Regions from separate parts of the Homo sapiens genome. Here all the other regions are linked to region 3. The links come from fine-mapping of genetic effects on gene expression. A gene starts in region 3. Each other region holds a variant in brackets. All regions are shown on one strand. Distances are between the middles of the regions. Region 1 overlaps LOC105370733 (a long non-coding RNA gene). Region 2 has its middle 43 kb from the start of PWRN1. Region 3 holds the start of NPAP1 (nuclear pore associated protein 1).

What was found. PIP is the estimated chance that this variant, and not a neighbour inherited with it, causes the effect.
Region 1: its variant is the best candidate, but not a certain one, in a credible set for the expression of NPAP1 in fetal neocortex (Walker 2019, PIP 0.72).
Region 2: its variant is the best candidate, but not a certain one, in a credible set for the expression of NPAP1 in thyroid (GTEx, PIP 0.50).

The regions. Positions count from the first base shown.
Region 1 is chr15:24,395,369-24,398,136 of GRCh38, reverse strand. All of the region lies in intron 2 of LOC105370733 (a long non-coding RNA gene), which reads right to left. Among named protein-coding and RNA genes, the nearest start is that of PWRN3, 44 kb to the left of the region's middle. The variant T/C (reference allele first, on the strand shown) is at 1,668.
Region 2 is chr15:24,599,838-24,602,605 of GRCh38, reverse strand. No RefSeq gene overlaps it. Among named protein-coding and RNA genes, the nearest start is that of PWRN1, 43 kb to the right of the region's middle. The variant T/C (reference allele first, on the strand shown) is at 1,166.
Region 3 is chr15:24,674,196-24,676,963 of GRCh38, reverse strand. NPAP1 (nuclear pore associated protein 1) reads right to left here and starts at 1,189. Exons shown (of 1, transcript NM_018958.3): 1 at 1-1,189. The coding sequence starts at 1,096.

The DNA of each region.
Region 1 (2,768 bases), 280 kb after region 3:
ATTAGGTCATATGGTGTTAGAAACATTAGTAGAAATTATAAAATTACCAAATTACCCTGGAGCACAATTAAATTCACAGACTGGAGCATATAATAGTGACTGAACAAAAGAAAATGCCAAACAACAACAAAACCAACCAACCACACAACATTAAACTTTAGTTATGGAGGTATTTCAAAATGATACAAGAGACAACTTAAAAATCTTCCAATAGCCAACACTGGAACACTTTGTGCAATTAAAAAAAAATAGTGGCCAAGCATGGTGGCTCATGCCTGTAATCCCAGCACTTTGGGAGGCCAAGGAGGGTGGATCGTCTGAGGTATGGAGTTTGAGACCAAACTGGCCAACATGGTGAAACCCTGTCTCTACTGAAAATACAAAACTTAGCCAGGTGTAGTGTCTCATGCCTGTAATCCCAGCCAGTTGAGAGGCTGAGGCACGAGAATCGCTTGAACCCAGGAGGCAGAGGTTGCAATGAGCTGAGATCGCACCATTGCACTCCAGGCTGGGCAACACAGAAAGGCTCTGTCTCAAAAAAAAAAAAAAATAGCACATATGCATTGTAAAATAAATATCCATATTTAGATAATGATATAAATAAAAGATGCATGTATAAGTAAATACATTAATACACATGAAATAATTGGAAAAGAATAGGCACATGTTTATGGTGAAGGTTTAAAGGAATTTGTAGACATTCTGCCAATAATGAATGTCTACTCTTGTTGACAGTTTGTACACTTGGTATGATATGATGAGAATGGCACTTTTTGGCCAGGCACAGTGGCTCACGCCTGTAATCCCAGACCAGCCTGGCCAGCACATAAAGACCCCATCTCTATAACAAAATAAATATCACTTGAGCCCAGGAGTTTGACCCTCGCCTGGGTAACATGGTGAAACCTTGCCTCTACCAAAAAAACTAACAAACAACAACAACAATAAATTAGCCCAGCATGGTGGCACATACCTGCAGTCTCAGCTACCCTGGAGGCTGAGAGGGAAGGATCCTTAAGCACAGAAGATGGAGGCTGTAGTGAGCCAAGCTCATGACACTGCACTCCAGCCTGGGCGAGAGAGTGAGACACTGTCTCAAAATTAAATCAATAAAAATGATAGTTTTCCTCATGATCTTCCTCCCCTAAACCCACGAATCCAGTCTTATCATTAGAGAAACATCAGAGGAATCCCACATTAGTAATATTAATGTCATCAAAAATAAGGAAACTCCGAGAAACTGTGAAAGTCAGAGAATTCTAAGGAGACATGACATGTACCTGTGATGAGGTATCCTGGATGAGATTCTGGAATAGAAACAGGACATTAAGTAAAAACTAAAAAAAATGAATAAAGTATGAAGAGTAGTTATAGTGTTATAAAACTGATTGCTTGTGACAAATGTCCTACATTAATGTAAGAATTTCATAAAAATGGAAACTTCGTGGGATATATGGATATTCTATGTACTACATTTACAACTGTTCTGTAAACCTAAAACCATTCTTAAATTTATAAGGTTTCTTTATCTTTAAAGTCACTGCTGACCTTATAAAACAACATGAGCAATATGTTTGATGGCCCTTAGTGCATCTCCTGAGCTTCACCATCTTCCTCAATCACTGAAAGTAGCTATTACTGTGAATTATTTGTTATCCTCTAATTTG[T/C]GTTTATTATATTTACCTCTATCTTTATATTTCTAATATCTATAATGTTTATTTTTCTGGTCTTCAAACATACATGCATGGTTTTAATGTATTTATGTCCCTAGTTTAATCGTGAGAAATCATGAGACAAATTCATATTGTGGGAAAACCTACAAAATATCTGACCTGTACTTTTCAAAAAAGTCAAGTTCACAAAAAATAAGTGAAGACTGAGAAATCTGCAGACTGGAGAATACTTGCTGTGTCAGGTAGAGCCTGCGATGGTGCCCGTGAACCTCACCTGTAAGAAATACACCGCTTACGTTATTTCATGTGCTCTGTTGAGTGGCCTCCTCCGTGTCTCACATGACCAACACACCTGAACTCAACATTTTTCCAATTCAGAGTTCTCCTAGAAAGTGGTTGTCTTGATATGAATGTAGTGGTCACAGGTCTGAAAAGTTCCGTACGGGCATCTGACAATAATTAGAAGTTTACAGTAATCCAAACCAAATGCCCATCAATCAATGAGTGGATAAGGAAACTGTGATATATATGTATACGTATACATATATATGTATATATATGTATACGTATACATATATATGTATACGTATACATATACGTATACATATATATGTATACGTATACGTATACGTATACATATATATGTATATATATACGTATACATATACATATATATACATATATATGTATATGTATACGTATACATATATATATACGTACACATATATATATATACACACACACACACACACACACACATATATATATATATACATGTAATGGACTACTACTCAACCATAAAAAGGAATGAGTTAATTGCTTTTGCAGCAACCTGGATGAGATTAGAGATTATTATTCTAAGTGAAGTAACTCAGGAATAGAACACCAAACATTGTAGGATCTCACTCATAAGTTGGAGCTAAGTTATGAGGATGCAAAGGCATAAGAATGACAAAATGGACTCTGGGGACTCAGGAGAAAAGGGTGGGAAGGGGGTGAGGGATCAAAAACTACAAACAGGGTGCAGTGTATACTGCTTGGGTGATGGGTGCACCAAAATCTCACAAATCACCACTAAAAAACTTACTCCTGTAA
Region 2 (2,768 bases), 74 kb after region 3:
CCAGGTGTGGTGGTGCATAGCTATTCAGGAGGCTGAGGTAGGAGAATCACTTGGGGGCATGGGTGGTTGAAGCTGCAGTGAGTCATGATTGCACCATTGGGTTCCAGCCTAGGTGACAGAGTGAGACTCTATCTCACGCACACATAAAATTTTTTAAAAGTGCAGAGGACATAAACAGACACTTTTCAAAAGAAGACATACCCATAGCCAACAAGCATAGGAAAAAATGCTCAACATCACTAATCATTAGAGAAATGCAAATCAAAAACCACAATAAGATACTATCTCACACCAGTCAAAATGACTATTATTAAGGAGTTAAAAAATAACAGATGCTGGGTGAGGTTGTGGAGAAAGGGGGATGCTTATACACTGTTGGTTGGAATGTTAACTAGTACAGCCACTATGGAAAGCAGTGTGGTGATTTATCAAAGAACTTAAAGCAGAATTGGCATTCGACCCAGCAATCCCATTATTGGGTATACGCCAAAGGAATATAAATCATTCTACCATGAAAACACACGCAGGGTATGTTCATTGCAGCACTATTCACAACAGCAAAGACATAGAATCAACCTAAATACCCATCAATGGAAGACTGGATAAAGAAAATGTGGTATGCATACACCATGGAATACAATGCAGCAATAAAAAGAATAGATCATGTCCTTTGCAGCAACATGGATGGAGCTGGCGGTCATTATCCTCATCAAACTAATATAGGAGCATAAAACCAAATACTGCATGTTCTCACATATTATAAATGAGAGCTAAACATTGAGAACACATGGACACAAAGAAGGGACCAAAAGGCACTACAGCTTACCTGAGGGTAGAAAGTAAGAAGAGAGAGAAGACTGAAAAACTACCTTTTGGGTACCACACTTATTGCCAGGACAATGAAATAATCTGTGCATCACACCTCCATGACGCACGCTTTACCTATAAAACAAACCTACTCACGTACCCCGAACCTAAAATAAAAGGCAAAAACATAAAATTTTTGGTAAAAATAAAATTTAAATGTCTTTAGAATTATTTAAATATTTTGTCTGAATAGTCAAGCAGGTCAGATACTGTTTTAGCTAGATGCTTTAAGGCTGTAAACTGCTCCTGTGATATTGGTAATAATTATTTGACTTGTCTTGCTTGTAGCCATAGTAAG[T/C]CCAAGGGATATGTGGAGTTCTTAGCCCAACTGTGCCCTCTGACTGTACTGGGAAGGGTGAGACATTATCTGCATCTCTGCCTTTTGTCCTGGGCTTTGCATCTGATAATAAACAAAAAAAACAATGCTTACTTCTTAGGTTTTTCACTAAAAATCAGAGTTGCTGACAGTTAAAATTACAATTAATATATGTAGTTAAATCTACTAGATACATGCAAAGTTTTAGGGAAAGTAAGATGTATTTTCAGAAAAAAAATTATACGACAGCATGTGAATACGTGTGTGTGTTTTTTTTCACAGAGGGTGTGTTACAGTTGTCTTTAAGCTCTGCTGTCCACGGGTGGCCTAAGTGTTAATAGCTCAGTGGGCCCTCTGCCTTTTCATGTGAGGTGGCTGCCCTCCACCAGCGAGGGCAAAGGGCCAGTGTGACAGCCTTCTGTATACACACTTGAGGCTCCCTAGGTCTTGTGTGGCATCCAGGAAAAATGAGGTTGCACAAACAAATTTAAGGATGCTAAATGTGGGGGATTTTATTGCTAATAAAATGGCTCTCATTGAGAAGGAGAGCTGAAGAGGGAACGGGGAGGCAGGTAATCTTCCCCTGAAGGCTGGCCATCTCCACCTGAATTCTTATCTGAAGTTATGCTATCGAGCTGTCCCTCTGAAGTCAAGCTGCTTCTCTTCTACATCCAGCCATAGTCCCTGATGTCCAGCTGCTTCTCTCTGTTGGCTGAGTCTAGGGTTTTTATAGGCACAGGATGGGGTGGGGTGGGCCATGGGTGGTTTAGGAAAAGGTAACATTCAAGCAGGAAAACAGGTATATAAGTTCGCACTTTGGACCACAGTCTCAGGCTTTTTTGCTTGAGGGTGGGGCTTTACTAGGGACCTCTGTCTGCCTAGAATTTCTCTGCCTTTTGTTGCTATCACAAGCACCTGTAAGTATCATTTGCATCAATTATAAAAATACAACATTATTTTATGTCACAATAAAAACACAAAACCATTGAAAAACTGTAACACAGAAACTTTTTATCACTTAGAAAATACATATATATTGAAAATAACTATTTTGAACTTACATAAATGTGGGTAATGGTCTTATATCACTCCTATGATCACATAAGATAAAAAAAGAAAGGAAAATAGGTAACAAGTGTTTTCTAAAATGTCACATACTTAGATCAAACTCTTCTGAATCACTTTTCAATTCACCTTGTCCATGATTTCTCTTATGTTAGCATCATCTCTGATGACTAGAAGCTTTGCTGATGCCACACTTATTGCGAGAGTACCATAAAACTTTCTGTTAGATTATTTTTCTGATCTACCAATATCACTCTGCAAGTTCTAATGTTTAACGATATCACCAGAATGTGAAAATGGAAGTGTTTTTTACACCAAGTTTATATGTGTGCACAAAAAAGCAATCAAATTATGCCTGTCTTCTGACCAATCGTGTTTTTAACAACATTAATTTTATGATACATCTCTATTTGAAAGATGTACAAATATGCCCTTTAAAACAAATAAAACACACTATTTTTCTTTGTGACTGCCTCTTTCTCAGTATAAAATCATGGTGTCTCATCTTATGTATTCTGGT
Region 3 (2,768 bases):
GGTCTCCCTCAACAGACAGGCAGGGGAGCTTAGCAGGTGGGGGAAGCTCACCTCGATCCCACAGCAATGGCAGTGAAGGGGGCAGCGGCAGCAGCAATGGAATCGACATTTTCCTTTTGCAGGGCCTGTTGCGGGCAGCTCTGGGAGGAGCAGCGCTCCTTGGAGGAATACAGAAAGGCTTCTCATCAGGCATCCTCTTTCCGGACATCAGCGGAATCGGCAAGCCTAGGGAGCTGGGCGGTGGCTCTTCATTCAGCACTTCCGCAGCCAACTTCTGCTGCAGCAGGGAGCAGCCAACGGCTGGCTCAGGGGGCGCTGTTGCATCCGGATCAGGCTTTCCAAGATGCCGGGCACATCCGGCCTGGCTGTGTGTGCTGGGCATGGCAGGGCCTTCCAAGCAGGAGCTCGCTGGAGACGCCTGGGCCTTCTCACTCATGCTGTTTTCTGAGAACTTGTGGTAGACATTTCCCTCCAGAGGCCCAGGGCTGCATCTGAAGGAGGCCACGTCTCCCTGGGTGCCCTGGGACCTGGATGTGGACGATGCTTCTCCGCTGCTAAGGGGGGTCCTTTTCTCGTCATCCTCCCCTTCGATCTGCACCGGATCCTCATCCTTCTTCACTCTTCTGGGCCCTTCTTGGGCCCACACCTCGGTCTCCTCCAGGAGAGTGGCTGGGATGGGCTTCCTGGCCTTGACCGCCGGCTCACGTGGTGAAGGCAGCAGGAGAGTGAACATGCGGCTGGGAGGAGGGATCCTTACGGAACTGGGGTGTCCAAACCTCGGGGGGTTCCGAGCAGGCAGCATGGGTGTCTTCCTGATGGCCAGCCCCCAACCCACAGCCGGCAGGACCCCCAGAGGGGCGGCCGCAGCCCGAGGGAGAGGACACGGCCTCTTAGGGGCGACGAAGATGCTGGCTGCTGAAGGCCTGCGACGGGCGTTCCGGCGGAACAGGCCGCGGAAAGGGCGCGGGGTGGGTACAGAGTGAGCCCGACCGGGCGGGGAGGCGTCCCGGGACAGGGGAGCGGGGGCGCCACGCCCTGGCCCTGGCAGGGGCCGGCGGCGGCACCCGGGTCTAAATTTACTAAGTAAATTGCCCATTTAGAGCTAGCCGTGCCTCCTACCGTAAAACAGGGTCAGCAGTGGACTCAACTCTCCTCAGCCACCGCCTCCTCTGGCGACCAAGCACAAACTGACTGGCTCTACGCCTGCGACGCCGCCGCGAGGTTCCTCACAGAACCAGGGAGCGCCAGCGGGGGCGCAAAAGGCAGGGGTCAGAGGGCAAAGGGCGACGCCCCGTCGGCCCCAGCTGCCCCAGGACCCCCGGAAGCCCCGCTGCCGGTGGCAGGTGTTGCACCGCGTGGCCTCTATGAGGGAACTGCTGGGGCCTGCGGGCCCATCGCCAGAGCTCTTGTCACCTGGGCGCCGGCTCTGCCTGTTCCTTAGCCCTGGCCCGGCGCTGTTGCACGCAGTGGCCCTGTGTCGGCCGTCCCCATTCCCCGGTTCACAGAGGGCACATCTGCTTCAAGTTAAGCACAGGACAACCTATATCCTGCCAGCCTCCTCTAGGACCTTGGCAGTGCTCTGTGCTGCCTGGAGCCAGGTGTGCCGTCTCTGTGGCGCCAGGGTCACCAGCCAGGCCGTGAGGGTTTCCGAGGAGGGGACGTGGTGCCTTGTCCTGACTAGATGCTACGCCCTACCACATCTCTTCCTGGCAGGCAGGGCCTCTTCACTTCTTTTCACAAATTTGTTTTAAACAACATTTAAGGCTGGGCGCGGTGGCTCACGCCTTTAATCCCAGCACTTTGGGAGGCCAAGGCGGGTGGATCACCTGAGGTCAGGAGTTCGAGACCAGCCTGACCACCATGGTGAAACCCCATCTCTACTAAAAATACAAAAATTAACTGAGCGTGGTGGCACGCACTTGTAATCCCAGCTACTAGGGAGGCTGAGGCAGGAGAATCGCTTGAAAGCGGGAGGTGGAGGTTGCAGTGAGCTGAGATCACCTCACTGCACTCCAGCCTGGGGGAACAGAGCAAAACTCTTGTCTCAAACAAAAACAAAAACAAAAAACCACAACAAACAACAGCAACAACATTTAAGCCTTAGGCTGCTTGCTCCTTGGGTCATTGATATGACAGTGGCCTAGCCAGGCTTCGAACCTGGGCTGTGTGATTCCAGAGCTGGTGCCGTGGCCTGTGTGCCTCCTTGTTATGGACACATCATGTATTCTCATTATTTCCTGTAGTCCTTAGGGTACCTAGCACACAGCACATCTGTATTAAGCACATGCGTTCCTAGGGGGAAGCCCTTACTTCACCTCATAAGTTGGTCATGGCAGGCACTGGGCTCCAGTCTCCTCTGAAGACATGGGGCAGCGACCCCCAATAGTCAGCAAAGCAGCATCCCACACTGTTCTTCTAATTGAGCCTTGCAGCCCAGATTTCCTTTTTGGTCTAGTTTGAAGGATCTAAATATGTAAAGATTATAGTCCAGATCCATTTTGGCCTATCCCGAAAGAAATTCACCAGTGGATTAATCCAAATGGATAAGCCAGTTCTCTGGCCTTCTTGGAATATGTTAGAAAGCAAATTCATCATGTATTTGCAAGTCAGTAGTGGAGCAATGTATTCGATTAAAATATGATCAATACAATTTGGTCATTGTCCGCATGCCAGCAAGGCCCACTCTTTACCACACATTACTGTCACCTAAGTATAACTATCCATATTCTTATGCCCAAGGAAGGAGACTTAATATTGGTTTTTAGGAC